Linked DNA regions of Homo sapiens: all the other regions are linked to region 1. The links come from fine-mapping of genetic effects on gene expression. A gene starts in region 1. Each other region holds a variant in brackets. All regions are shown on one strand. Distances are between the middles of the regions.

Region 1 (5,000 bases):
GGAAGAAAAGAAGGAAGAAAGGAGGGAAGGGAGAAAATAGGAAGGAGCACTGCTTAAAGGTAAGAAAATGGCCTAATTAGACCAGTTAGTAACCACTTAGTTAAATGCTATAATTAAGCTTTTACCCTAGCAAGGAACTTTCTAAGTGATCACAAATGATAACTAAGTCATATAATATCTGCACTGAAGGGACATCTTACCTAATTCTGTCATTTGACAGGTGTAGCAAAGAAATTATAATTATACAATGCTTTACAGTTTACAAAGTGTGTTCAAAATGTCACATCATCTGTCCTTCAAATACTCCTGAAATAGGCTCATATGCCCCATTTTAAGGATCAGGAAATTGAGGGTTACAGAGATAGTAATGTGCCTTAATAATAATGTCTATGATTTATCAAATGTTTACTATGTGCCAGACTCGGGGATAAGCACAATCTTGCGAAAATTATCCCTATTTTATAGATAGAAGGTGAAGGGGCCGGGCGCGGTGGTGACTCACACCTGTAATCCCAGCACTTTGGGTGGCAAAGGCAGGCAGATCACTTGAGCCCGGGAGTTCCAGACCAGCCTGGGCAACATGGCCAAACCCCGTATGACGGGGGGGGGGGGGGGCAATTAGCCGGGCGTGGTGGCACACACCTGTAGTCCCAGATACTTGGGAGGCTGAGGTAGGGGGATGGCTTGAGCCCAGGAGGCAGAGGTTGCAGTGAGCCGAGATAACGCCACTGCACTACAGCCTGGGCAGCAGAGTGAGACCCTATCTCAAAACAAAAATAAAAAAAAGGAGAGAAAAGAGAAAGTGAAGGGTAGCCAGGCACAGTGGCTCACGCCTGTAATCTCAGCACTTAGGGCGGCCAAGACAGGAGGATCACTTGAAACCACGAGTTGGAGACCAGCCTGAGCAACATAGCAAGACTCTGGCTCTACAAAAAATAAAAAAATTAGCCAGGGTTCGTGGTGTGAGCCTGCAGTCCCAGTTGCTCGGGAGACTGAGGCAGGAGGATCGCTTGAGCCCAGGAGTTCGAGGCTGAAGTGAGCTATGATCGCATCACTGCACTCCAGCCCGGGCGACAGAGCAAGTTCCCGTCTCTTTAAAAAAAAAAAAAGAAAAGAAGGAAGGAATGTAGGTAGGTTAGGTGACTTGCTCGAGATCATACAGCTAAGTCACTGCTCTGATTCTAAGCCATACACTTAAAACAGAAGTCTTGAGTTACCTATAATTCAACTTCACAGAGCCCTTTAGTAGAGTTGGCTTATTATCCAGTCCCATGTTCTCTCTTTTAAGAGTTAGTAAGTCTGACAGCCATTATGAGGGTCTACAAGCAAAAGCACTAGCCCAATCATACCCAAAAACTCATGTTGGCGGAGAGCCCATGCCTCAGATGAAAGGCGTGAATAACTAGAGTGGAGCGGACAAAGCTAACAAGTCTTATAATGTACACATTAAGAAGCAGAATAAACTTCAGAGTAAATACGCAGAATAAACTTCAGAATTCAGAGTAAACACTCTCTCCCGGAGCAGCAAGGATAACAACATCACGATATCAACAATTCCAGCACCTTACACTCCTGTAACCTAGCGCAATTTCCGGAGAGCCTTCAGGTTCATCTCAACGGATCCTCGCAAAAACCTGTGGCCTGGGCTGAGCAGAGCGGGAAATCAGTCTCACTTTACACAGGAAGCCGAAAGGAACGCCGAAGAAGGCCGAGTGGGCAGAAAAGCACGAGATTAAGAGATAGGGGCAGCCACCTGGGGAGACTGGGCGCCTCCACTGACTGGAGGAAGAACGCAGGGCCCGCTGCGGGGACAAGGCCCAGAGAGGCCGTGGTGCTGGGTCCGTCGCCCGCTGAGGCTCAGGGGCCTTGGAGGTCGGCCCAGGCGCCTATCTACTCACGTTGGACCAGCTGGTCTCCTGAGAAGACGGAGGAGCAGCTGGTGACTAACGCACAGGGTACGCCAGCAGCCATAGCTGCGCTCGCGAGCCGGTTCCGTCAGGCAGCCGCTTCCGCCTTGGGCTGCACCACGGCCGCCGGCGCGAGGGGGAGACAGGCCGGAGAGGGCGTTCTCGGAATGACCAGGCTGGCCTGACCCCGCCCCTAGACCCCCTTCCGCTCCCAGCGTGGAACAGGCCAGGTCGCGCGCGGTGTTGCCATGGGGACGAGCGGCTCCGGCTGAAGGTTTCCGTGCTTGGAAACCGCGCCTCCGCGGAGGTAGCCGTTCCCTGACCTAGCCATGGCACAGAACACTGAAAACCACGACCCTGTCGGATCCATCTTAATCCAGGTGGGAAACGGGCTTCCCCCGGCCCTGCCCTGCCCAGCCGCGCCACTTCCGAGCGAGGTCCCGCGCGCCGATTCACCGACGCTCACCCATTTGGTGCGCCGCCCCTAGACTCCCTCCAACTCGCGAGAGGCTCCCAAAAATGCCCACCCAGACCTTCCCCCACGGCCCAGCACACTCCCGGTGACTTACCCTGTAGGTTACGCCCCAGAAGCAGGACTTTCTGCCTCTGGGAAAACTCTAAAACCGTTCACCCGGAACCTTTACTTCAGAAAAATTAACCTCACGCTGAGGCATCATTTTTAAATGTTATATTCTGAAAAATTTGAACCCATGACGTCGGGAGTGGAGGAGAGACAAATCGGACACTCTAGGAGGTGATAAGAAATTTGGAGACAAATTGAAATATGTGAATTGCTTTTCTTAAACACCCCAGTTTTTTAGATCTAAATGTTCCTCATTGGAGAACACACAGAAAAATCAAGATAACTTGGAATGAAAAAATGTGACATTTAAAAACTTAGTGAAAGACCTTTTTAATTTGAGAGGGGAAATGTCAAGAAAGTCTTGTCCAATACAGCTCAATTTGTAATAGTTGCACTCAGATGTTTCTGAAATGATCATGGCATTTTGTTTTCACATTTATGTGAGGTAACTTTAAGATATTTCCACATATATCATCGGTTTTAACTATCACATATATAATAGCTGCATTTGACTAAGTCTTGAAGTCATTTGTCTAAGGTCACTCTGTCAGGACTGTCACTCAGTTGGTCTGAAGTGGGTCTTACTCGTCAAAGGGATCTAATTTTTCTGGCAGAATTTTGATCTCTTACCTCCCATCTAGGAGAGACTTCCCTAAATGTACCTTTTCCCAAATACAAGCCCCTGAACTCACCAATTTCATAGACTTCCCCATTAAGAATCATACCTAATCTTACCTGATCTTTTCTCACCCTCACTTTCACCATCACGCAGCAATGAGTTTAGCCAAACTGCGAAGTCTGAGGGAACGGTCCACAAAAAACTGCCCTAACTTCAACACTCACTACCTGCAAGTTCAGGGGTCCCCAGAACCACCTCACTTCAGACCAGCTGGGTACAAACTTAGGGGCCCCATCACCACCCTCACATTCAATGATTCACTAGAACTATTCGCAGAGCTCAGGGAAGTGCTGTGCTCACATCTCCAATTTTATTATAGTGAAGGCATACAAATTAATCAGCCAAGGAAAGAGATGAATAGGACAGAGTCCAGGAGGGGTACAAACATAGAGCTTTTGGTCATCTTATCCCTGTGGAGTCATTGACGTCATTACCTGCATTACTTCCTCCCAGCCATGATATGTGACAATATGCATAGAATATTGCAACTAGAGAAGCTTATCTGAGGCTTTGATGTCCAGAGTTTTTACTGGGGCTCAATCTCACACTGCCCTTGTGGTTGACCATTAATCTCCAGCCCCTCCTGAATACTTTTAGTTTCCCGCTGCTCCAGAGGTCTGAGCTGATACAGCGTGGATCAAAACACCCATTATAAATCATGTTGATAGACTGTCTGGTGGCCAAAGCCCACAGACAAAGACACTTCTATCAGGCAGGACATCCCAGGCGCCTAGAGATCACCTCCCAGTAGCCAGGAGCGAAGACTGGACCCCTCTTTGGGTAAGGTTAATTCTTTGCTGCACATACCCACTCTTTTTATAGATTCCAAATAATTAGAACAATAATGGAGACTCTTACCTAGGATACAACATTATAGTAATAGATAACTGTTGACACTGACTTGTGAGATGGGTCAGAAGAGCTAATAGTCATATCCATGTTGATCTGCACCCCTACTTATTTAAAAGGATTCCTGTGGACATATCAAGTAAAGGGCTGTGTAGAGGAAGAGAGCCTACCTGTTAACCAGATTATTAAGACTGATTCCTGTATAGTATAAAATTCTATTCTCTACATGTAGAATATGTATAGTGAGGAAATTTGGAAGACTTTCCCTACTTTCTCAGTGAATCCTGAGAATGTGTGAGTATGTAGCACCACCCAACTGTGCCAACGTGGATTCCACTTCTATTTGGGGCTATGATTTATTTCCCTCAGACAGGCTACCAATAATTAGTGTGTCTAGTGGAAAGCACTTGATAGGGAGTCAGAATACTGAGATCTGACCATGACTTTGACAGTCTCACAAGTAGTGACTTTGAGTTAGGCACTCATCTCTCTGGACCTCACTTTCCTCTTCCATAGGACATATAGTTTGGATTAGGTTCACTTCTGACTTTAAATTGTCCCAATTTCCCCAGGCTACATCATTTACTGTAAAAGTAGACTTCCTTTGTTGTTAGCCTAGGCAATCAAATTGTTTCTGGCAAGTCAGTGACTGAGTGAGTGTGTGTGTGCAATAGACTGTAAAGCAGAGGTACTTTAAATTTCTACTTGCTTCACCCTAATATGGTCAGTTACGTCTGTGTATCAGTCAGATATATTAAACAGCTTTTTAGACCAGTGGTTCTCAAAGGTGTTGTAAGTATTATTTTTTAGCTCCAGTTTACAGAAGACACTTAGGTACAAAGAAGTAAAGCATCTTGCCCATTGTAATACATCCAGTATGTATTGATCCTTAAATAGGCTATGGCATGTTCATGAAGTAATCTTGAAGAAGTGTGATAGTGACTCTGGGAAGTTTCCAATCATGCTTTGTAAATCTTAGAAG
Region 2 (5,207 bases), 550 kb after region 1:
CCATGTTCTGGTTCTAGCCCAACTGCCTGGTTGGTTGCCCTTGGGCAAGTTCTGCACACTGAGTGTCAGTTTCCTCTTCAGCACAATGGAGATGCATAGCTGTGTGTGGGCCACAGTGAGCATGGGAGCCAGTGGGCACATCAGGACAAACCTTTGGCAAATGCCTAGCACACAGCACTCCTTGTCCAAGTCAGTCCCTTGCAGAGTGGTGTAAAGCATCACGGATACAATGTGCCTCATCAGTAATACGAAGGAGATGGGGTCACCTCCCAGCTGGACTTGGTATTATTCAGTGTGCTATCTCCATCCATCTTTAAGAGTCTGGCCTTGCCAAGATGCCTAGGGCATCTGGCTGTGTGGAACTCGGGCACCTCTGGGTGGCCAAGTGAGTTTTGTGCTTCCTCCCAAATTCTCCATCAGATTTTGTTTGCTTGCTAAACTCATGAGGAATGCCTGCATTGTGCATGTCACAGGGTTAAGGGCGTCAGTTACAGTCTAGGAGGAAGGAGAGAGCCACACCTGCCAGGGTCCCAGGGGAGCCAGGCCAGCCCCGAGAATACTCCAGAATAGAAACCAGGAGACATGAGCTCAGTGCCAGCTCCTAACCCCTGTCTTCCCTCCCTGGGCCTCAGTGTCCTCTCCTCTAACATGGGGGTCATGGTGTATTTTCCCTGAATCCCATGCAGGGCTGATGGGAGGAGGGGGAGTCAGTGACTCTCCCAGTGTGTCCAGGGGACAGTGCTGATAGAGGTCAAGACCTGGGATGGTCTAGGCTTACAGCCTGCAGCCCTGGTTGCACCTCTGGCTAGGCAGGCCTGAGTCGCCAAGGTAGAAACAAGATGAGGGGGAATTGCAATCTGAATATTGATTCTCCCTCCTCTATCCAGGAAGAGCCCAGGGCAGTGGGTTTGGGTTACAGACTTGTGGTTCAGTCCCATGTCTGGGAGCTCAGGCAGGTCAGCTGTGACCCTGCAGCCTCCATCAGTAAAGTGGAGGTGATTGTGCCCACCTGTGTGAGTTAACACTTCTTTGGCTGCAAATAACAGAAACCAGCCCCAGCCTGTGAGGTGCCTCACAGGATCCTGTGACCGTGTGGACCCTGCAGGCAGAGACGCTGCCAGGCTCTGGGTGTAATGGCCCCAGGGTCTCCAGTGCCGTCACGACCCCCCGCCTGCCTGCCTCTGGACAGCACCTCCTGCTCTCGGGTCCTACACACTGGCTTTCTCTGTTGTGTCCAGTCAAATGGTGGTGAACAGCTGCCAGCAGCTACCAAGTCCACAGTGCACAGCCTAGGACGCTGGGTCCCCTCCATGTCTGTCCCCTGTGATTCTCCCTGTCAGGCAACCACCCTAAACCAATCAACAGTGGCTTGGGACAAAGGCAGTGGGTCCAGGTCGCTTCCCTTGCAGGTGGGGTAAAGTATCGGGGATACAACATGCCTCAGCAGCAGCAGGAGACGAGGTCACCTCCCAGCTGAGGAGGGCAGGAGAGGCCGGCATCTCCACCGGAGCTGAGTATGGCTGCAGCTGAGCAGCCCTCTCCCCTCGCCTACCGGGGCACTTGGGCAAACTGCCTCCCTGCAGTGCGGCCATCCGCCCTTCTGGAATGTGGAGGAACGCCTCTACGCTCCCTCCTGCAGTTCCGCTCTGCTTGTTCCAGAACAGATGATAACAGAGATGGAGCATATGGGCCCCAAAGTCACCCGGCATTCTGGGAAAGTGACACTGTGTTACCCCGGGCGTGGGGGGAGGGGCCCGTCACTCGTGAGCACAGCTTCTCCCTTTGTTCTTTAGAAGGGCACGAGGTCGCCCCTCCTGAGCCTCCTGAGAGGAAGTGTGCACGCTTGGACTTTGGGAAGGATTTCCTCTGTCTAGGCAGCGATTTGGGAAAGCAGCCGTGGGGTGGGCATATATATGGGGAGGAGAACACTTGGAAGCCAAAATCCAGTCCTTCCTGGGCCTCTCCTGCTCAGGCCCCAGACCAAACCTCTGCCATCCACAGGGCCACACCCAGCCTGGCCTCCATGGCCCCTGTGCCCTTAGGGGTCCTGCAGGTGTGTCAGGAGCCTCCCAGAGTGCTATGAGCAGATTATGGGAAGTACCCAGCTGGGCTCCAGGCCTAGCTCCACCCCAGTCTCAGCGGGTCCCTGCCCGGGGTTGAGTGCCTTGGCATCTTCGAAGCCGAGTTTCCTCCTCCTCCTCGCAGCTCTGACAGTGCTCTGTGTGCCTCTGAGATAGACCCACGCAGGGTGTCCCCAGGGCAGGTTTCCCAACCTCGAATGAGAAGGTTGGGGGCGGGCACTGCATCAGCCTAGGATGAGGCGGCCTGAGCATTCTCCTGTCCCCCACAGTTCTGACCTGTGGTCCAGAGGGG[C/A]CATGCCGTCCCCTGCTCTACCCAGGCCTGGTCCTTGACAGCCCCTGCAGGCGCTGAGGTTGGGACAGCCAGGGTCCACATCCCTCCTGGCTTTGTGATGAGCTCGTGGCGAGGCCATGCGGCTCTTTAAGCAGCCTCTCTAGGGCTGCAGTCAAGGCTGGGGTGTGCTGGGAAAGCAACCCTGAAAGCCCAGCCTGTGCAGGTGGAGGACAGGCCCAAGAGGGGCTGAGGAAGCTGGAGGGAGGAGAGAGCTGGGGGGAGCGAGGAAGCGGCCGCTGGACAGGGAGGGAGAAGAGCTGGGGGCAGGCACATGGCGCCCTCATCTCCCCCATTCTCTGTCCTCGCTATGGCTCCCCGAGTCTCACCATGCAAGCTGCACAGTTTTGGGTAGGAGAGGAAGCCACTTGGTGTAAGTTCCTGGGCAAGAAGCCACTTGGTGAAGAGGAAGAAAAAGAAGGCTTTTCACTTTTCCTTTCACCTCTGACTGTGGCCTGGTAACCCTGGGGTTGTCCCTGCTTTTTTCTGACCTTCCCTGGGAATTCCCAGGAGGCCCTAAGATTGTGGATGTAAATCTTGGTGCTTCAGGACAGCAGAGAAGAGAACTGGCTAAATAGAATCTGGTCTGCCTGTGTGATAAGTGGGTTAGAACCAGAGGCAGGCCACAGGGCAACAGGGCCGGCCCCTCCAGAGTCCAGCCCCCAATGGAACTTCTCACCAGGAACCCAGAGATCCTGTGCACAGCCCAGCACATTCCTCCCCCTCCCCACTTCCCCTGACATGTTTGCCTTCCCTCCAATTGCAGGTGGTGACTTCTTTTTATAGGAGAGCTGTAGACAAAGGAGAAAGCTAAAAGGGATTGACATAGCCTCTGACGAGATGATTCTTTGGTCTCTGGGCACCAACTGAACCGGAAAGCTGGCAACACAGTGCCAGGCCTCGGCTGACTGGCCGTGCGAGTGATGCCGGGCAGAGGAAGGGCCAGGCAGAGTGTGCAGCGAAGACAGGCCCTCGCCCTTAAGCACCTTCCAGGCTAGTGCGAGCCTCAGGAAGAGGTGGCAGAGTCTGAGATGTGCCAGCCAGCACTCCACACGCTTGGTGCTGACTACCAGTATGTCACTGCTCGTCCCTGGGCCTCAATTATCTAGGCCGTGAAATGGAGCTGATAGCCTCCCTCGTTACCTCACAGGGTTACTGGGGAAAGAGATCAGATCCAGGCTGAGGGCAGGCCCTGGAAAGTACAATGAGCGCGGGAGTCCGAGGACTGCCTGTCACAGCCTCCTCCTCTTCCCCGCAGGGCCACCCGTTCATCGTGCAGTTCAATGATGGAAATGCCGCCGTGGTGTCCATGTGGGTGTGCCGGGCGCTGGAGGAGAGGCGGAGCCAGCAGGGGCCCCCGTGAGGCTGCCGCAGGGCACTGAAAGCCCAGGACCAGTAACCAAGGAGAACAACCCACCCGTCGCCCTTCTCCGTATGCTGCCTGCGCCAGAAGAGCTTTGCTGGGCCCTGGCTTCCCTGCCCTCGCCTTCACCTCTGTCAGCAGGTGGCCTTGCCTGGGGAGCCCCATGTGTGGCCCACCCCACCAGGCCATCCCCATACCTTCTGGTTTGAAGGCGCTGACACTGGCAGAGAGGTAAAGGGTGGGGCATTGAGAATGGAGGCTCCCAGGGTCCCTGCCCACTTCTGTTTTCCTAATGTTTTTCTCTATAAAGGGTCAGGCCCGTCAGCATCACTGATGGGAATAAAAGTATTAATGCTTTGTGACAGCCTCTGCCATAAGAGTTGTGTGGTCCAGGGGGTCTGTGACCCCCCCCAGGGCTGGGGGCAGGTGGGATCTCCACTTCAGCAGGGATGTGTGTGACAGTGCCTGCTGCCTGCCCAGGCACCTGCAAGCCTCCTGCTAGCTCCTCGCAGTTGTGCTGAGGCCCACAGCCCAGCTCCACTGTCAGATGAGAAACAGAAGCACGGAGGCATTGGGATGGGTCCCATGGCAAGGAGTAGGCCCGGATCTCAGGCCCCCGCCATGAGCTCCTTACTGGACTGCCAGACACATCCACCTGACCTGCGTGGCTGAGGAGGGAGTGGGCTGTTCTGAGAGGCCCTTCTCCACCCCAGCCCCACCCCTGCTCCTCACTGCCCTTGACCCCACACCTGCCACCTCTCACCTCTCAGGAAATCCCCTCAGCCACATGCCAGGTAAGCCTGGCTACCCCCATTTTGCAGGTGAGGAGCTGAGGCTCCAAGGGGCTCAGGATTCCACTTGAAGGTCTGAATAGCATCTCAACACGTCCAGAAGCAAATTCCTAATCCCCCACCCCACCCAGACCTCCTCCTACTGCTTTCCTGTGTCAGTAAATGGCATCTCCATCCTCCCAGTGCCCAAGCCATTTGGCACTCCCTAAAATGCCAGGACATGGCTTTGACTCCCTTTTCACACCCACATCCAGTCCTGCTGTCTTTGCCTTCAAAGAATATTGGTTCCATCACCCAAAATTCTCTCTTGACTCCAGCCAGTTGGTCTTCTTGCTGCTCCTTGAACATCCGGGCACATAACCACCCAGGGTCACAGCAGAGACGTCTAGCCATGGAAGGTTCACACTCCCTCCACAGGGTACCGCGTTGCTAGGGAGCCACTGCCCAGCTGGGCTTCCATCTCATGGGTGGGATTGGTGCTATTATAAAGGGTGAGTTTGGAGCCAGGCACAATGGCTCTCGCCTGTAACCCCAACACTTTGGGAGGTCGAGGGGGGAGGATTGCTTCAGCCCGAGTTCAAGACCAGCCTTAGCCAACATAGTGAGACCCTGTCTCTAACAAAACTTAAAAAATTAGCAGGGTG
Region 3 (5,000 bases), 79 kb before region 1:
GCCAGGTGCCCAGGGAGAAAGTCCAGAAGAGGGAGGAATAGTATATGCCAAGGAGGAAAGTGTGGATGGAGTGGGGAGACATGGGAGAGGTTGTGCCATGTGTGAGCGGGCCCTTGAAGGACAGATGGGACCCTGTGAGGCAGAGAAGGATGGAAGGACATTGCAGGTCCAAGGGCATTATGTGGTCTGAGGACAGCTGGCATGGTGGTTGGTTGTTGTCTCAAGAGGGACAAGGTGGGAAAAGGAGGCTGAAATGGCAGGTGGGGCACTGGGAAAAGACCCCTGAGTGTCTGCTTAGCGCCCTCTTGCCTATAGAATAAAGTTGTTTGTGGGTTTTGATTGGGGAGGTTTTCTGATGACAGCTTCATAAAGATTAATCTGGCCACTGTGTGGAATCTAAATTCTAGGGGAAATTACTGGAGGCAAAACAAAACAAAACAAAACAAAAACCCACTTAGACAGCTCTTCCTCTGGAGGAGGCTGAGATAAATGCTTTCGAGAAATGGTAGCAGAGCTGGGAGAATGCATTTGAGAGGGAATCATGGGCCTGAATGAGCAGGGTTTGTTGACCAGCGTTAAGTGGGATGATGGTGATGCCCCCATCGAGGCTGGACACCCAGGAAGTGGAATGGGTTGGGGGTGAAAGATGGTGGTGGGTTGCCTGTGCTTAACTATGTCCAGGAAGCAGTTGGAAAGTCAGGAAAGCGGCTGGCGCTGGAGGCGCAGATTTGGAAACCATGAACACATGTGGCAGCCTTTCCCATAGCGGGGCCTGAGAGAAGGGGTTTGGTGGTTGAATGAGTGTGGAAAGCCTGTATTGTGGCCTCTCCTCCAGCCCCCACTCAGGAGGGACTCACATGGCCACGCTCTGAGGAGCCTGCAGAAGGAGGCCTGTCTGACCCAGCCTTCCTCCCATGCACTGATCACTGTTCCTGTACTTCTGTCTTACCGCCCCATTACCCATCCATAGATCTGACTCTGGAAACACCGATGAAGTTTGGCTGAAGTCATGCCAGTGGATGGATTTAGTGGAGAGGCCGACCCAGCTCAAGATGGAAAGACAGCCAGAGATGCGCTCGGGTGGTGGGGGTTCCTTGGAGAAGGCTGAGGTCAGGGGGATGATGGGGTCACAGCAGCTCAGAGGGGAGGCAAGCCCTGAAGGACAGTGGCTACAAGCGGGCCCTGCAGAGATGCAAAATGAGATTTAAGAAGAGGCCTTGGATTTGGCATCAGGGTTTCAAGGGGGAGCTTTTAGGGAGCAGTGTGTAGGAGGGGAGGGGCTGCAGTCAGTCAGCAGTGCACTGAAGGGCAAGTACCAGGTGGGGAGGTGGAGGCACCCAGCAGCGCAGCCTTTGTGCTGACTCACAGTCAGTGCGTCCCAAACCCTAGGATGGAGGCAAGCACACAGGGAGCTCTTCCTAGGAAAAAATGGGGACATCTCAGGACATCTGATTATTTCCTTTAAAGAGATTATTATGAAATTACTGTACAAAAAGAAAGAAAGCAGAGGACATCTGGTTTCTCCTTTCATTTCCTCCCCACTCCAGGTGTTAGCCCCAGGGCTCAGGTCTGGGGAAGGTTGAGCCTCCTTGCCCCAGCAAAGCCACTTCTGGTAAGGGGCAGGGACTCCTGGTTGAGACCTGGCTCAGCATCCTGCCCCAGGCAGGCTCTCGGAGACCCTGGGACCTGGGACCGTTGTTTGCAGGGCAGGAGATATGAGCAGGTGATGTTCCTGTTATTACACAGCGTGCTGGGTGAGTCACCGGGAATTTCCTAGGCATTTAAGGCGGAAGGATTGGGGTAAATGGAGGGGAAGGAGGAGGCAGGTGGAGAGAGGAAAAAGGTAGTGAGCTGGCTTCTGCCTGGTGAGTAAGTTGTTCCCTGCTTTAAAGTGAGATGATTAGGGCGGAGCCATGACTGAGGAAAATAATGTACCAGGGAGAGCCCTGAGGGAGCAGTTGAGCTGGAGTTAAAGGAGGTGATGGCTTCCAGAGTGCCAGTGGCAGGAGTGAGAGGCAGGGATGGGGCAGCTTGGAGTGAGAGGGATAGGGCAGCTTGGAGGTGGCTGATGCCGGATGCAGTGCTTCAGACTGAAAGGTGGTCGTTTGCTGTGAATTGCCCTCTAGATTGTGTAGACTAGGATGATGGGATGTTTCTTGAGCTTGGACCCAAGGCAGCATCTCCTGTTGACATAGTTCTCCCTCCCTACTGACGCTTCCTCAGGCACCTTGCCTGAGAGTTGAGAATTCTTAGGTTATTTCTTCCAAAGGGAGGACCCTCCCCCCAGGGTGCCACTTTGCACTGGCCTAGTTGCACCTCTGCTGGGAAGGTGTGAATCGGGGGCAAGTTGCCCCGTGAGTCAGGGTTAGGATTCTGGGTGAGACTCCACGCTGACAGGCCCGGCTTCCCCTCTGCTTCATGAGCCCCTGTGCCCATGTGTGAGCACAGGTGTGGTGGCAGGGCGGCCCGAAGACCACCAGCCCTGAGTGTGGACGGCGGCCCAGGGCAGAGGCCCAACCCAGTTCCAGGCATCTTCATGCTGCTGCCCAAGGCTCTTTTACAATGCAGCCTCTGGCTCCGGTCTTCCCCACACTTGTGAAATCACAGGCAGGGTCTTCCCCACACTTGTGAAATCACAGGC[A/G]GGCAACATAATGACAGGAAGTCAGCTGTCGGCTCTGTCTTCATACTCCTGAGGGCCCGGTTTTTAGACTTTGCCACTGTTCCTGGTTGCAGTATGCTGGTCATAAGCTAAAAGGGCATGGGGGTCTCTGTGCAGCTTGGTTTGGTATTTTAGTCCGCAGATACATAGGTTGGAATTAGTACCCTGGGTGCTGGGACACAGCTGGCGTGGGCTCACAGAGACCTCATCCTCTAGCATAGGAGACTCAGGTACACAGTTTCTGGGACACAAGGTTAATTCTGCACTGAGGCAGTGAGGGAGTGTTTCACAGCCGTGTGAGCTGGGCCTTAAAGATCGAGTCCCTGCAGAGGAGGGGGATGGGCAGTCCAGGCAGAGGACCCAGGCAGGACTGAGAAGTGGTGGATGAGGAACATGGGAACTGGAGTGTGGAATCTCCTAGATTGAGGAAGAGCTGCCTTCCGCAGGTGAGGTGGGCCCAGCAGAAACCAGCCCATTTCTGTTTTGACCTTTCGTCTTGCAGCAGCAGTGCTCCTGGCCTTTGCCCGTTCCTTGCTTTCGATTTATAGGAGAAAGTTAATTTCCCCCCTTGCCTCCCCACCTCTTCCTTTACGGGATTTGAATCTCTTGCACATGTTTTTAATAGGCATCCCTTAATCCAAGTGTTGCCTTCTGGGTTTTATTCTGTTTTCTTTTTCTTAAACATAATGGAACGTCTGTGCCAGCTTGGAACAGGACTGAAAACTGAGGCCAGCCAATGCGTTAGGCTGGCAGGGGGCCAGCCATGGATTAAGTGCCCTATGGCACTTGAGAAGTCTGGCCGACACCACACTGGTGGGGGAGGGGGATCCACAAAGGCTGGAGCTGGAGGTTCCTGCGTCTCCAACACCTCTGCACTGGGAGGAGAGATTAGCACAGACTCAGAAATCTGGCCAGGAGCAGGGCTGTTTGAAGGGAAGGCCGTGGGCACGTGCCATCGTCTACCACCCCAGCTGTGCAAAATGCTCAGCCTAGAGGTGAAACTGCTCTTCAATGGGGTGTGTCACCTTACCCCCCGTAGTCATTCTCCTAGAGGAGCCTTCTATAGAACTGCTTCTGCATTTGTTGGTAAATCCTTGAAACCAGATCTTAATTTGCTTGCTTGCTTGATCAGTTGATTGATTGGTCAGGGGAGGGGTTGCCACCTCCCCCTGAGAGATTTCTTTTAAGATTTAATGCCAGGACAAACTTTGTTTTCCCTGAGGAACTAGTAAGCATTGCCCATCCACCAACCAGAGCCATAGACCATGTCATGTTCCCTTTTTGTCTTGTCTACTAGGAAGCTCAGAGCCAAACTGGATGCTTTTGCAGTAACTATAACCTCATGGTTATCCCATTTATAGCCGCCTTCTTTCCAGAGTCCTTTTTGTTTCTCTGGTACTAACCAGGGTAAGGATAAGTACTTTGGGAAAGAAATGAGGGCATATTTAGTGTTTTGGGTTTTTTTTTTTTTGGTGTGTGGCAGAGTCTTGCTCTATCCCCCAGGCTGGAGTGCAGTGGCGTGATCTTGGCTCACTGCAACCTCTGCCTCCTGGGTTCAAGTGATTCTCCTGCCTCAGCCTCCAGAGTAGCTGGGATTACAGGCACCCGTCACCACACCCAGCTAATTTTTGTATTTTTAGTAGAGACGGGGTTTCGCCAGGTTGGCCAGGCTGGTCTCGAAATCCTGACCTCAAGTGATCTGCCTGCCTTGGCCTCCCAAAGTGCTTGGGATTACAGGTATGAACCACTGCATATGGTCTGTTTTTTTGTTTTTTTTTTTGTTAAGGAAAAATGTGCCATTGAAGGCAGAACCCACAGGTGGTGACCATACTTTCTGGTCTGCCACTCCTCTTGCACAAGTTCTGGGAGGAAGCAGCTGAGGCATGGTGGGCGGGAGGGACCTAGAAAGGAGGGAAATCACGGCTGGCTTTTAGTTGTTTGCAGAGAATAGAAAGCGCATGGCTGGGGTGCTGCTCTGGCTCAGTCCCGCTTCTGAACACAGGGCAGCTTGTCCAAACAGCACTCTCTGAAATGGCAGCCTGCAGACTTTGCCACTGGCCTGATTTCACTGCTCCCTCAAACAAGCATCTTCTTAATGATGTGTCAGGTTCCTAGTGTCCGGGGTTTTCCACAACACTGTCCGGTGTGTGTCTGTGAGTTGCAGGGCTGTTTGGATAAGGGCTCAGATCTGCTTGGGAGGGCCTCTCGGCCTATGACCCCAGGCCTGTCTTTGATTCTGAGGGTCCTTGAAGCCCACCCTTCCCCAGAGCATGGTTCTAGCACCATGCGACACAATGGGTGGCCTGCCAGCTTTTTCTTTTTTTGAATGGTGGGCTGGGTT
Region 4 (5,207 bases), 680 kb after region 1:
CTGGGAGGCTCATGGGGGCAGGGGAGTCATTGCCTATGGTGCATGCAGTAGATGCTCTGCTAATACTGTACTCTTTAGGGTAAGTGGAGGGTAGAGAAAGGTTTCTCAGTTCTGCCTTAATTCAAGAGTGCCCCAGGCAATAAACTGTTGCTTGTTCTTATAGAATGGCAGTTGCTTTGGACAAATGTTTTGGAAGATTTTTGGAACTCCAGAGTACTGCAGAGAGTACTTTCAGACAAGGTTGTCGATTGGAAAAGAAACTGAAAAGGGCCTGGACCAGGCTGGGCTGGACACATAATATATCCACAATATCCTGGACTGAACTTGAGCCATTGTGTATTTATGTAATTGTCCTGCTGTTGGCAAAGGGCAAGTCCAAGCCTGAGGAGTGGGGTAGATTCCACTGAAGAAATGTTCCCATGCCAGTCATCTTGGGAGGAAGTTTGTCCTGGGGTAGAAATTGAGAACTCAAGATGTGGACCTTTGGGGTGAGAAAGAAGTGTGTTCTCTCTCTCTCTCTCTCTCTCTCTCTCAACAAAGTTGGGTCTGCCCTACAAGGGAAGACATGTTCCAGGCAACCTGAGAGAAGGAGCTGGGCTGGACCCTGCTGATGGGGAACAAGCTGGGGCTGAACAGCTAGGTGGTCCTATGAGATTATCTGGGTACCAACCTGGGCTCTGATAAAATCCACATTGGTCACTGTGTTGAGTATGTATTTCTTTGTATTTTATTCTTCTTCCATGGTGCCCAAATTTAATCAGCTCCTGCTAGACACTGCATCTGGTTTCTGTTGAGTATGATGCACTGAGGGGAAGGCTCTGGCCATGCTTGGGGCTGAGTGGCCACCATACCTGGCCTGAACATTTTAATAGAACTTTTCACTTTACAAAACAATATCCCACTCAGAATGCTGGGCTCGGTGCAGGGACAGACAAGCTCAGCAGTGTGGGAAATCGCAGCAGGTGTGCAGACTAAGGAAGCTGGAGGGGGAGAACATAAGGGCAAGTTCTGGGGCAGTGGTAACTTAGCACCTGGGGCCTCTCCAAAATAGCTAGGGATGGTCCTGCAGGGACTGAGTTCCTATGTGGGCCAGTAGGGTTCAAAGGAAATTGTAGCTTGAGCATTAAATGGAGATAAGGCAGTTTATTTTCATTGGCTGGGGAGGCCTGAACATAGTTGTTCTATTAGATGTTGTGGTAGTAAAAATAGATAACAGCAATAATCTAGTATGTCAACATGTGAGGTTTTTTTGTTTTTTTGAGACAGGATCTTGCTCTGTTGCCCAGGCTTGAGTGCAGTGGTGCATTACAGCTCACATAATGCTTGAACTCCAAGGCTAAAAGCAATCCTCTCACCTCAGCCTCCTGAGTAGCTGGGACTACAAGTGTGCCCCATCATGCCCGGCTAATTTTTGTGTTTTTTGTACAGATGGGATCTCATAATGTTGCCTAAACTGGTCTTGAACTCCTGGGCTCAAGTGATCCTCCTACCTCTGCCTCCCAAAGTGCTGTGATTACAAGTGTGAGCCACCATGTCTGGCCTCAACATTTTAATAGAACGTTTCACTTTTACAAAACAGTTTCCTATATATCCATTTCTAGTTGATCCTCAAAATAATCTTATATGTAGAACAGGCATTAGATTGCTAATTGTTCTTATTAGTTACAAGGTTAAACTATATGAAATTGCCATATTAATAAGTCAAACACTGTTAAATGTAAGCAACTTTGTATGGTTTATCCTCATTACATAAATCATAACTATTATAAATAACAATAATAGTGTCTTAGTCCATTTTGTGTTGCTGTAACAGAATACCATAGACTGGGTAATTTATTTTAAAAAGAGATTTATTTCTTACAGTTCTAGAGGCTGGGAAGTCTAAGATCAAGGGACTTGCATCTGGCAAGGGCCTTCATGCTGTGTCATCCTGTGGCAGAAGATGGAAGGGCAAGAGAGCCTGAGAGAGCAAGAGGGGACGAAGGCCAAACTCATTCCTTTTATCAAAAAACAAACTCCTGAGATCATGAACCCACTCCTTCAATAGTGGCATTAATCCATTCATGAGGGCAGAGCCCACATGACATATCACCTCTTTTTCTTTTTTTCCTGGAGACATGACTCACTGTGTTGCCCAGACTGAAGTGCGGCGGTGCAATCATAGCTCACTGCAGGCTTGACCTCCCAGGCTCAAGTGATCCTCCCACCTCCTTAGTAGCTGGGACTTCAGGCATGCACCAGCACACCCAGCTGTTTTTTTTTAAATTATTTTTTGTAGATACAGGGTCTCCATATGTTGCCTAGGCTGGTCTTGAACTCCCAGGCTCTCAAGCAGTCCTCCCACCT[T/C]GGCCTCCCAAAGTGCTGGAATTACAGGCATGAGCTATCATGCCTGGCCACTAATCACCTCTTAAAGGTCTAACCTCTCAAAACTGCTGCATTGGGGATTGAGTTTTCAACACATGAACTTTGAGGGACACATTCAAGCCATATCATGTAGGAACTTAAAAAATATGTACCTGGCATATTGCTAAGCTCTCTTCACACATTTTATCTCATTCAGAGATGCATATTCTAGTGGATATAGCAATGTTCCTTTCAGATTCCTCTTCAGAGCCCACACACTCATTCCCAGCTGCTGGGAATATTGGCTACTTCCCTCACTGGGAATTGCCCTTGGCCACAAGTCACTGCTTCCACCAAGGTGATGCCCAGACCCCAAGGGTAGTCATTAGGCTGTGACTGGCTGACGTGAGGATATAAAGCCTGGGCCCCTTGCCTCAATTTGGGACCCTCTGAAGGGCCATGTGGCTCAGAGCTCCCTGTAGGATTGGCTCTTCCTGGTTGCAACCACATTGGGGGTCATCTTCTCCCTCTTCTCAATCCTGCCCTCTCACTTACGTACAGGTGTATCTCCCAAAATTACTGCCTAAGAAACCTTCTGCAGACAGAAACCACCTCCATCTCAGAGTCTGCTTCCAGGGAACCCAAACTTAGGACAGTTGGTGTCAGAGGGGTTCAAGGTGGCAGACTCTAAAGTGGGAGTTTGGAGAGGGATCACTTGCTAGTCAGCTCTCCATGAACTGGTATAGGAGTGGTAAGGATAGTCCCTGCCATGCTGTAACTGCATGATGGCTAAAACTTGCATTTCTGGTGAACTGGGGCGTGATGGGATGCAGAAAATGCTGCTTCAAATAATAACACCTTGGAAATTGAGAAAATAGTAGAAACAGGAAGGCTACTCTCACCTTCCCCTCTACCTTCTTCCCTGAAGCAAGGCCATAAAACTTAGGAAGGTGACAATCTGACCTTCTCCCACCCTTCTCTCCTGAAAACCCTCAGGTGACAGGTGTCCTGCCCTATACCTTGAGGGAATGTCACACAAGAACGGACAAGAGTCTAAACAAAGAGGCCTTGTGAAGATCCCCCTCTGCAGTTTATCACTATTAGATCATCTCCCCTTTGTCCCATTAGACTTCTGCAGGACTGTTCATTCTTCATCAAAGCCAAGCATAAGGATACACAGGTTTCCCTGTTTCTTTGAGTCTTCATTTCTGAAGGCTCCTGTGTCATGTAAAACTAATATTAAATACATATGTATGCTTTTCTCTTGTTAACCTGTCTTTTGCTACAGAGTCTCAGCCAAGAACCTAGCAATGAGTAGGAAGATAAATCTTTTCTCCCCTACATATGGTATATGGGTGGAAGGGGTCACACTCATTGGTGTAGTATCTCTGGCAACTGGGGGCCGTAGTGACTATAAGGACTATGGAAATGAATGACCATTGCTGAGTCCATTTACTTGCTAAAGAGACTTAATGATAGCCTCAGAGTGAATAATCACCAAGGTAAAATGTTAAAGCCAGATGGCCTCCTGGGCAACTGTTAAGGAAATCCCTCCTGCAAAGGGAGGATCAGGCATAGGATTTAATGTTAAAAATAGCAGAGCTTTGGAGAAGGTTTGATTTTTCAGCCCTGACAGGCCTCCAATGCCAGGGTCAGAGCCATAATAGGTGAGGACTGGGAACCTGAGACTTGGGTTGGGGATATATGAGTAGATGCAGTCAAGCACCTTGAATTCTCAGGTCCTTCTGAACCCACTGGGTTTGCAGAAGTGACACACTTCTTGTTGGCAAACAGTGGTGCCCCTTATTTGAAGATTGCACTAGTCTGTTCTCACATTGCTATAAAGAACTACCCAAGACTGGGTAATTTACGAAGAAAAGAGGTTTAATTGGCTCACAGTTCCACAGGCTGTACAGGTCTGGGAGGCCTCAGGAAACTTACAATCATGGCAGAAGGTGAAGGGGAAGCTGGCATGTCCTACATGACTGGAGCAGGAAGAAGAAAAAGACGGGGGAGGTGCTACACACTGTCAACCAGAACTCGTGAGAACTCACTCACTATCATGAGAACAGTAAGGGGAAATCTGCCCCCATGATCAAATCACCTCCCATTAGGCTCCTTCCCTAACACTGGGGATTACAATTCAACATGAGATTTGGGTGGGGATGCAGAGCCAAACTATATCAAAGATCATACAAGGTTTCCAGTGAGGCAGGTGCCCTACATGAGAATGCTTGTCCTCCTCAGAACCCAACTTTACTTCCTTCCTGGCGATCTAATAAAAGTTAAATCCCAGCTGTGCTGAGCATGCTAAGGGAGGAGAGGCACTATATGCTGCAGGAGCCACAGGATCTAGCTAATACATTTAAGCAAGCACTGTGCACAGAACAGGGTCCTGAGTAGGCTGGATCAAGAGGGGAGGAAGGTAAAGGTGGATAAGAGCAGGTGTTAATATGGGAGTACTCTCCATGATACAGAACTTAACACTCTGGCAAGGAACCCAGGGTAAGGGGGTGAACACACTTCAGAGATGGATTTTAGAAGCTTAGGAAAAGCAATGGTTCACACTAAGTAAAGTAGAAATATTAGAACTGCTGTGGCAGATAGGAGTTCAAGTCTTGGAGAAGTAGTCCAGGTATGGTGGCTCATGTCTGTAATCTCAGCACTTTGGGAGGCTGAGGTGGGCGGATCACTTGAGGACAGGAGTTGGAGACCAGCCTGGACAACATGGCAAAACCCGTCTCTACTAAAAAATACAAAAAAAAATTAGCCAGGTGGGGTGGCCTGTACCTGTAACCCCAACTACTCAGGAGTTTGAGGCAAGAGAATCACTTGAACCTGGGCCAGATTGTGCCACTGCACTC
Region 5 (5,000 bases), 70 kb before region 1:
TTCTAGGAAAGGGACCTGATGTCTAGGGGGTTGGGGAGGGTAGGGAACGGCTCTGCAGAGACCTCATTGTCAGTGACAGACAGCCACCACTACCAGACCTGTTGTTCCCATTTCGCTTTTTGTTTTTTACTTCAAAAAAGATACTTATTCTGGGTGGCATACCACTGTTTGATTGATTGATTGATTTAGAGATAGGGTCTTGCTATGTTGCCCAGGCCCAGTCGCAAACTCTTGGGCTCAAGCTATCCTCCCATCTCAGCCTCCTGATTAGCTGGGACAATAGGCATATACCACTGCAACTGGCTTTTTTCTATATTTTATTAAAAAAAAAAAAAAATATATATATATATATATATATATATATATATTTTTTTTTTTTTTTTTTTTGGAGCGGGGAGACCAAGTCTCGCTCTTGTCTCCCAGGCTGGAGTGCGATGGCACAATCTTGGCTCACTGCAACCTCCACCTCCCAGGTTCAAGTGATTCTCCTGCTTCAGCCTCCTGAGTAGCTGGGATTACAGGCATGTGCCACCACACCTGGCTAATTTTTTGTATTTTTAGTAGATATGGGGATTCACCACGTTGGCCAGGCTAGTCTCGAACTCCTGACCTCAGGTGATCTGCCCGCCTCAGCCTCCCAAGGTACTGGGATTACAGGTGTGAGCCACCATGCCCGGCCTATTTTTTTAAGTTACTGAAACGAAACAAACATTTTTGGTCTGGGTCTTCGCATCCCCACCTCTGCCTTCTGCTCTTACTGACATGATACAGTTGTGGACAGCCAGGAAGTCATCCCTCCTGTGGACTCTGAGCCACCAGCACCCTGCAGAACTAAAGCCAGAAAAAATGGGGAGTGGTTGGAGGAAGGGGACAGTAGTGGGAATAGGAGGCAGGACAGGGGACATCCAGTGATGCATGGGTCGGTCACCTCGTGTTCATCCTACCGGATGCTGGGCCTGTAATATCTGGCTCCGTGTTCTGACCTCTGAGCTTCTTCCCCAGGAATGGAGCAGAGACTTTGCCATGCAGGAGAAGGGACCATCCCCTGGCCGAGCAAAGAGCTCATTGTCAGAGTTTACGCAACTGTTTGAGTTGCAGAGCCAATTTAAAAATAATTTCTGTCCATCTGGAGTGGATTTAAGAGATGAAAGAAAAGTAAATGATATAAACCTCTGGAATGTTTTAGAAAAATGCATTGAGGGAAGAAAAAAATAAGGGCATAGCGTTAAACCATCCCTGCAATAAAGGGCTCCTTGGGGTGTCTGCTGCATCAGAAGGAGCCCTGCAGGTTTACTGAATGAATCTCTGAATCTTGGAGTGTGAAGAGACCAAATAATAGTGGGGTAGTAGTAGCAGTAGCAGCAAGAAAAGCTGACACCAGGCACTTACTGTGTGTCTCACAGTAATCCTGCAAGGGTAGAGGTTATCATCATTCCCTTTTTTTTTTTTTTTTTGGAGTTAGGGTCTCACTCTGTCTCCCAGGCTGGAGTGCAGTGGTGTGATGGGAGCTCACGGCAGTCTTGAACCCCTGGGCTCAAGCAATCCACTCACCTCAGCCTCCCAAGCAGCTAGGACTACAAGGATATGCCACTATGCCCAGTTAATTAAAAAAAAAATGTTTTTGTAGAGATGAAGTCTCATTACATTGCCCAGGCTGGCCTTGAACTCCTGGCCTCAAGTGATCCTCCCACCTTGCCCTCCTAAAGCTCTGGGATTATTGGTGTGAGCCACCGCGCCTGGCCCCCATCCCTATCGTAGAGACAAACGAAGACTCAGAGGGTGAATAACTTGACTGAGGCCCATGCCTACTCAGTGGCAAAGGCTGTCACTGAGACCTATCCTGTGTGCCCATCTCTTGTCATCTGCCTCCCTTGGCTTTAGGAATCCGGCAGTGCCCATTTCCCCTACTTTAGGCTTGGGCTTTGGGGCCCGTTTGCCTGGGGAAGCTGGCAGTCACTGGGAGCAGCTCTGCTGTTCTGCCTCCTTTGCGAGCCTCAGGTGGCCCCAGGGCCATTGTGTGTGAGCAAAGGCACCCTGTCCAGTCTAACCTGAATCTCTGTAGGAAGAGGCGTGCGGCTCTACTACATCGGAGGGGAGGTCTTCGCAGAGTGCCTCAGTGACAGCGCTATTTTTGTCCAGTCTCCCAACTGTAACCAGCGCTATGGCTGGCACCCGGCCACCGTCTGCAAGATCCCACCAGGTAAACGAGCCGCACAGGCACCCCTGCCTTGAGGTCCCTCTCCGAGTGCATGCCTAGGATGCTGGAGAGAGTCCACCTTTCTCACCTTTTCTGCTCACTCATGATTGCGTTGTCAATCTGGAGGTGATTGGATTAGGTTTTCTCTATGCCCACAGATCTAACTGTGCTTTCCCTGAACTTCCAGGGAGCAGATGTAGCATCTGATAGGTCTGCCTTTAACCTGTGGGTACCTGCCTGTTGCCCTGTGCGTAGATGCTCAGGCAGTATGGCTTCCTTTCTTCACTCATTCATTGCACAAACAGCATGCAGGGCTCTGTGCCAGGTGCTGTAGGGGATGAAGAGGTAGATGCGGCCCTGCTCTGCCCC[C/T]GCAGACCTTACAGGCCTGCAGAGCACAGAAGACAAAGACACGGATGAGTTCAATATAAGGGACGGGTGCCAAGCACCAAGCCAGCAGCCCAGGTAGAGAGAAGGCCCATTTAGCTGTTGGGATGGATCAGGGAAGTCTTCATGGAGGAGAAACATCCGGATCCTGAAGGATAGGTAGGCACTAGGCACAGGGAGGGCATTCTAGACAGGGGGAGCAGCCCAGGCAAAGGGCCTGAGGTAATGGAGGGCAGGACATGGATGGGTAGCTCTCTGGCTGGAGGAGGGTCATGTATGAGACCGTCAGGGGAAATGTTTCAAAAGCACAACAGCATGAGGCCGTGGAAGGACACCAGAGAGTTTGACTCTAGGGAACTGCTGAGGGTTTTCTGAGTGAGCCTGAAAAATCCCACCTGTACCCCAAGAAGAGGTGTCAGGCTGCACCCCCGAGAGTGGTTTGGACAGGGCCACGCCTGGACAGCAAGATCAGGCAGGTGGCTGATCCCATCTAAGGCCTCTTTCCTCAGGAAACCAAGGCAGAAAGCCCCAGCCAAAGTCCACTTTTCACAGGACGTGCAGCCACTGTGTAGGCAGCCCACAGAACATGGCCTGTGACAGACTAGTGGAGCAGGTAACCTGGCCAGGCCATTGCCTGTGGCACGTGTGTGGCATGCCCCTTCCTGCCCACTGAGTAGCAGATGGTAGTGGAGAAGTGGTAGACCACAGGCAGGGGAAACTTTAGAATGCAGAAAGTCTGAAATGATAATAGCACACCAGGTTTCCAGAGCATTTTGTGGTTGCATTTATAGAGTACATTCCGATCGTTGACCTCATTTAGTCCTCACCAGTTATTCTCTGGCTCTATAAGTAAGGAGACGCTTTGAGAGACAAGTTCAGAGAGTTTCAGCCACCTGCCCAAGCGCACACAGCTAGTAAGTGGCCAAGCCGGGATGGGGCCTAGGGCTGATGGACTCTCAAGTTTGGTGCTCTTCTGCTTCTTGGCTCTGCTGGGGGTCAGGGCCCAGGTTCAGCCCTGTTCCACCACCCTTGTCCTTGGAGAGAATGAAGAAGAGGAAGCTCAGTGACGCTCTTGGCCTTCTGCCTCTTCCATTCCCCGGCCCCACCCCCATCTTTTGGGTGAGGGCTGAGTTGGCTGTGGTGTTGTTTGTCAGCTCATAGAATGTCAGAGCTGGAAGGACCTCTGAGGCCAGCCCTTCATTATACAGAGACACAGGGTCCCCAAGAGAAAGCGACCAGCTCAGAGTCACACAGCAAGAACAGGAGCCTGCTGTTGGCTCATTCATAAGCGTCACCCCGGCTCACCTTTTGGCTATTTCCAGCATGTGCTTTTGTCTTTATTTTTCTGGTTGACACATTCCTGGCACTCAGGCAGTAAGACTTCAAACGACATTTATTTTAAACTTTATTTGTGACTGTCTTTAGTTTTACTGTCTGGAGAATCAGATGCACACCTTCACTTAGCTGTGAATGTCACCTCCACCCAGCCCAGTGCCCAGAGGCCAAAATTTGGCCCAGATCTCTCCTTACCTCCTAGCCCCAGCACCAGGTGTATTCATCAGAGGAGCCCAGGTGGAGGGTGCACTGGGCCCTCTGCCAAGCTTCCTGTGGGGACGGCAGGCCCAGTAGCCTTTCGGCCAGCCCGTCTCTGGGGGCACTGCCTGCTGTGGAACGGCCAGAGCTCCTGTTCCTAGGTGGGTGACCAGACCCCACACAGCATGGGCAACCTGGCCCAGGTCCCTTATCTCTCTGTCCCCTGGTCCCTTTGCCCAAGGAAAGGCCCCCCTCTCCACACCATCTCCCTATTTTTGGAAGCCCTCTTTGCAGACTTCTCCCTGCTCTGGGAGTCGGAGCTTGTGGGCCAGCCTTCCATCTCCCCTTGCAGGTATGTCAGTGGCACCTCCCAGTGAGGAGATGGGTTCAAGGGGAGGGACTGGGTTGGCCTTCCCTTTGCATGGTACTGAGTGTGGAGTGTGTGGCAAATGCATCACACACCATGTGTCCCTGGAGCTGTATAAATGAGGCTGGTCTAGGGGGTCCAGGACTTGCTTTATCCAGGAGGGGAGCAACGGACCTGGCCACTTCCATCCCCACAGCCCTGTTTCTGTGTTTTTGGCAGGATGCAACCTGAAGATCTTCAACAACCAGGAGTTCGCTGCCCTCCTGGCCCAGTCGGTCAACCAGGGCTTTGAGGCTGTCTACCAGTTGACCCGAATGTGCACCATCCGCATGAGCTTCGTCAAAGGCTGGGGAGCGGAGTACAGGTCAGTTATGGGTGCTGCCTACATCAGGGGACCCAACTCCAGGTGACTCTGGACAGCAGAGCAGGCAGGGCTCCTCAGAGATGAGCTAGGCCAGCCCTAGCGTCAAGAGCAGAAAGACCAAAGATCAGAGAGAGGCCAAGGCCTGGCAGGCAGGA

Direction of the effects. Alleles are on the strand shown, and positions count from the first base shown. SD is a standard deviation of normalised expression in the study named. Not every link is listed here.
In carriers of allele T in region 5, the expression in tibial nerve of the gene that starts at base 2,001 in region 1 tends to be higher than with C alone (moderate effect, 0.56 SD a copy in GTEx).

The links. PIP is the estimated chance that this variant, and not a neighbour inherited with it, causes the effect.
Region 2: its variant is fine-mapped to the expression of AAGAB in whole blood (INTERVAL, PIP above 0.99).
Region 3: its variant is fine-mapped to the expression of AAGAB in whole blood (TOPMed, PIP above 0.99).
Region 4: its variant is fine-mapped to the expression of AAGAB in whole blood (TOPMed, PIP above 0.99).
Region 5: its variant is fine-mapped to the expression of AAGAB in tibial nerve (GTEx, PIP above 0.99). The same link has a PIP of 0.9 or more in lung and tibial artery.

Annotation. Positions count from the first base shown.
Region 1 is chr15:67,252,661-67,257,660 of GRCh38, forward strand. It overlaps AAGAB (alpha and gamma adaptin binding protein), which reads right to left and starts at 2,001. Exons shown (of 10, transcript NM_024666.5): 1 at 1,899-2,001. The coding sequence starts at 1,971. It overlaps IQCH (IQ motif containing H), which reads left to right and starts at 2,126. Exons shown (of 21, transcript NM_001031715.3): 1 at 2,126-2,287. The coding sequence starts at 2,237. RefSeq lists an enhancer at 1,742-2,061.
Region 2 is chr15:67,802,979-67,808,185 of GRCh38, forward strand. It overlaps MAP2K5 (mitogen-activated protein kinase kinase 5), which reads left to right. Exons shown (of 22, transcript NM_145160.3): 22 at 3,668-4,136. The coding sequence ends at 3,772. Among named protein-coding and RNA genes, the nearest start is that of SKOR1, 20 kb to the right of the region's middle. RefSeq lists enhancers at 806-1,668, 1,669-2,529. The variant C/A (reference allele first, on the strand shown) is at 2,374.
Region 3 is chr15:67,173,306-67,178,305 of GRCh38, forward strand. The region is part of intron 5 of SMAD3 (SMAD family member 3); the gene reads left to right. Among named protein-coding and RNA genes, the nearest start is that of SMAD3-AS1, 29 kb to the left of the region's middle. RefSeq lists an enhancer at 2,748-2,797. The variant A/G (reference allele first, on the strand shown) is at 2,642.
Region 4 is chr15:67,929,952-67,935,158 of GRCh38, forward strand. No RefSeq gene overlaps it. Among named protein-coding and RNA genes, the nearest start is that of RNU6-1, 93 kb to the left of the region's middle. The variant T/C (reference allele first, on the strand shown) is at 2,347.
Region 5 is chr15:67,182,665-67,187,664 of GRCh38, forward strand. SMAD3 (SMAD family member 3) reads left to right here. Exons shown (of 9, transcript NM_005902.4): 7 at 2,063-2,200; 8 at 4,701-4,845. Among named protein-coding and RNA genes, the nearest start is that of SMAD3-AS1, 38 kb to the left of the region's middle. The variant C/T (reference allele first, on the strand shown) is at 2,567.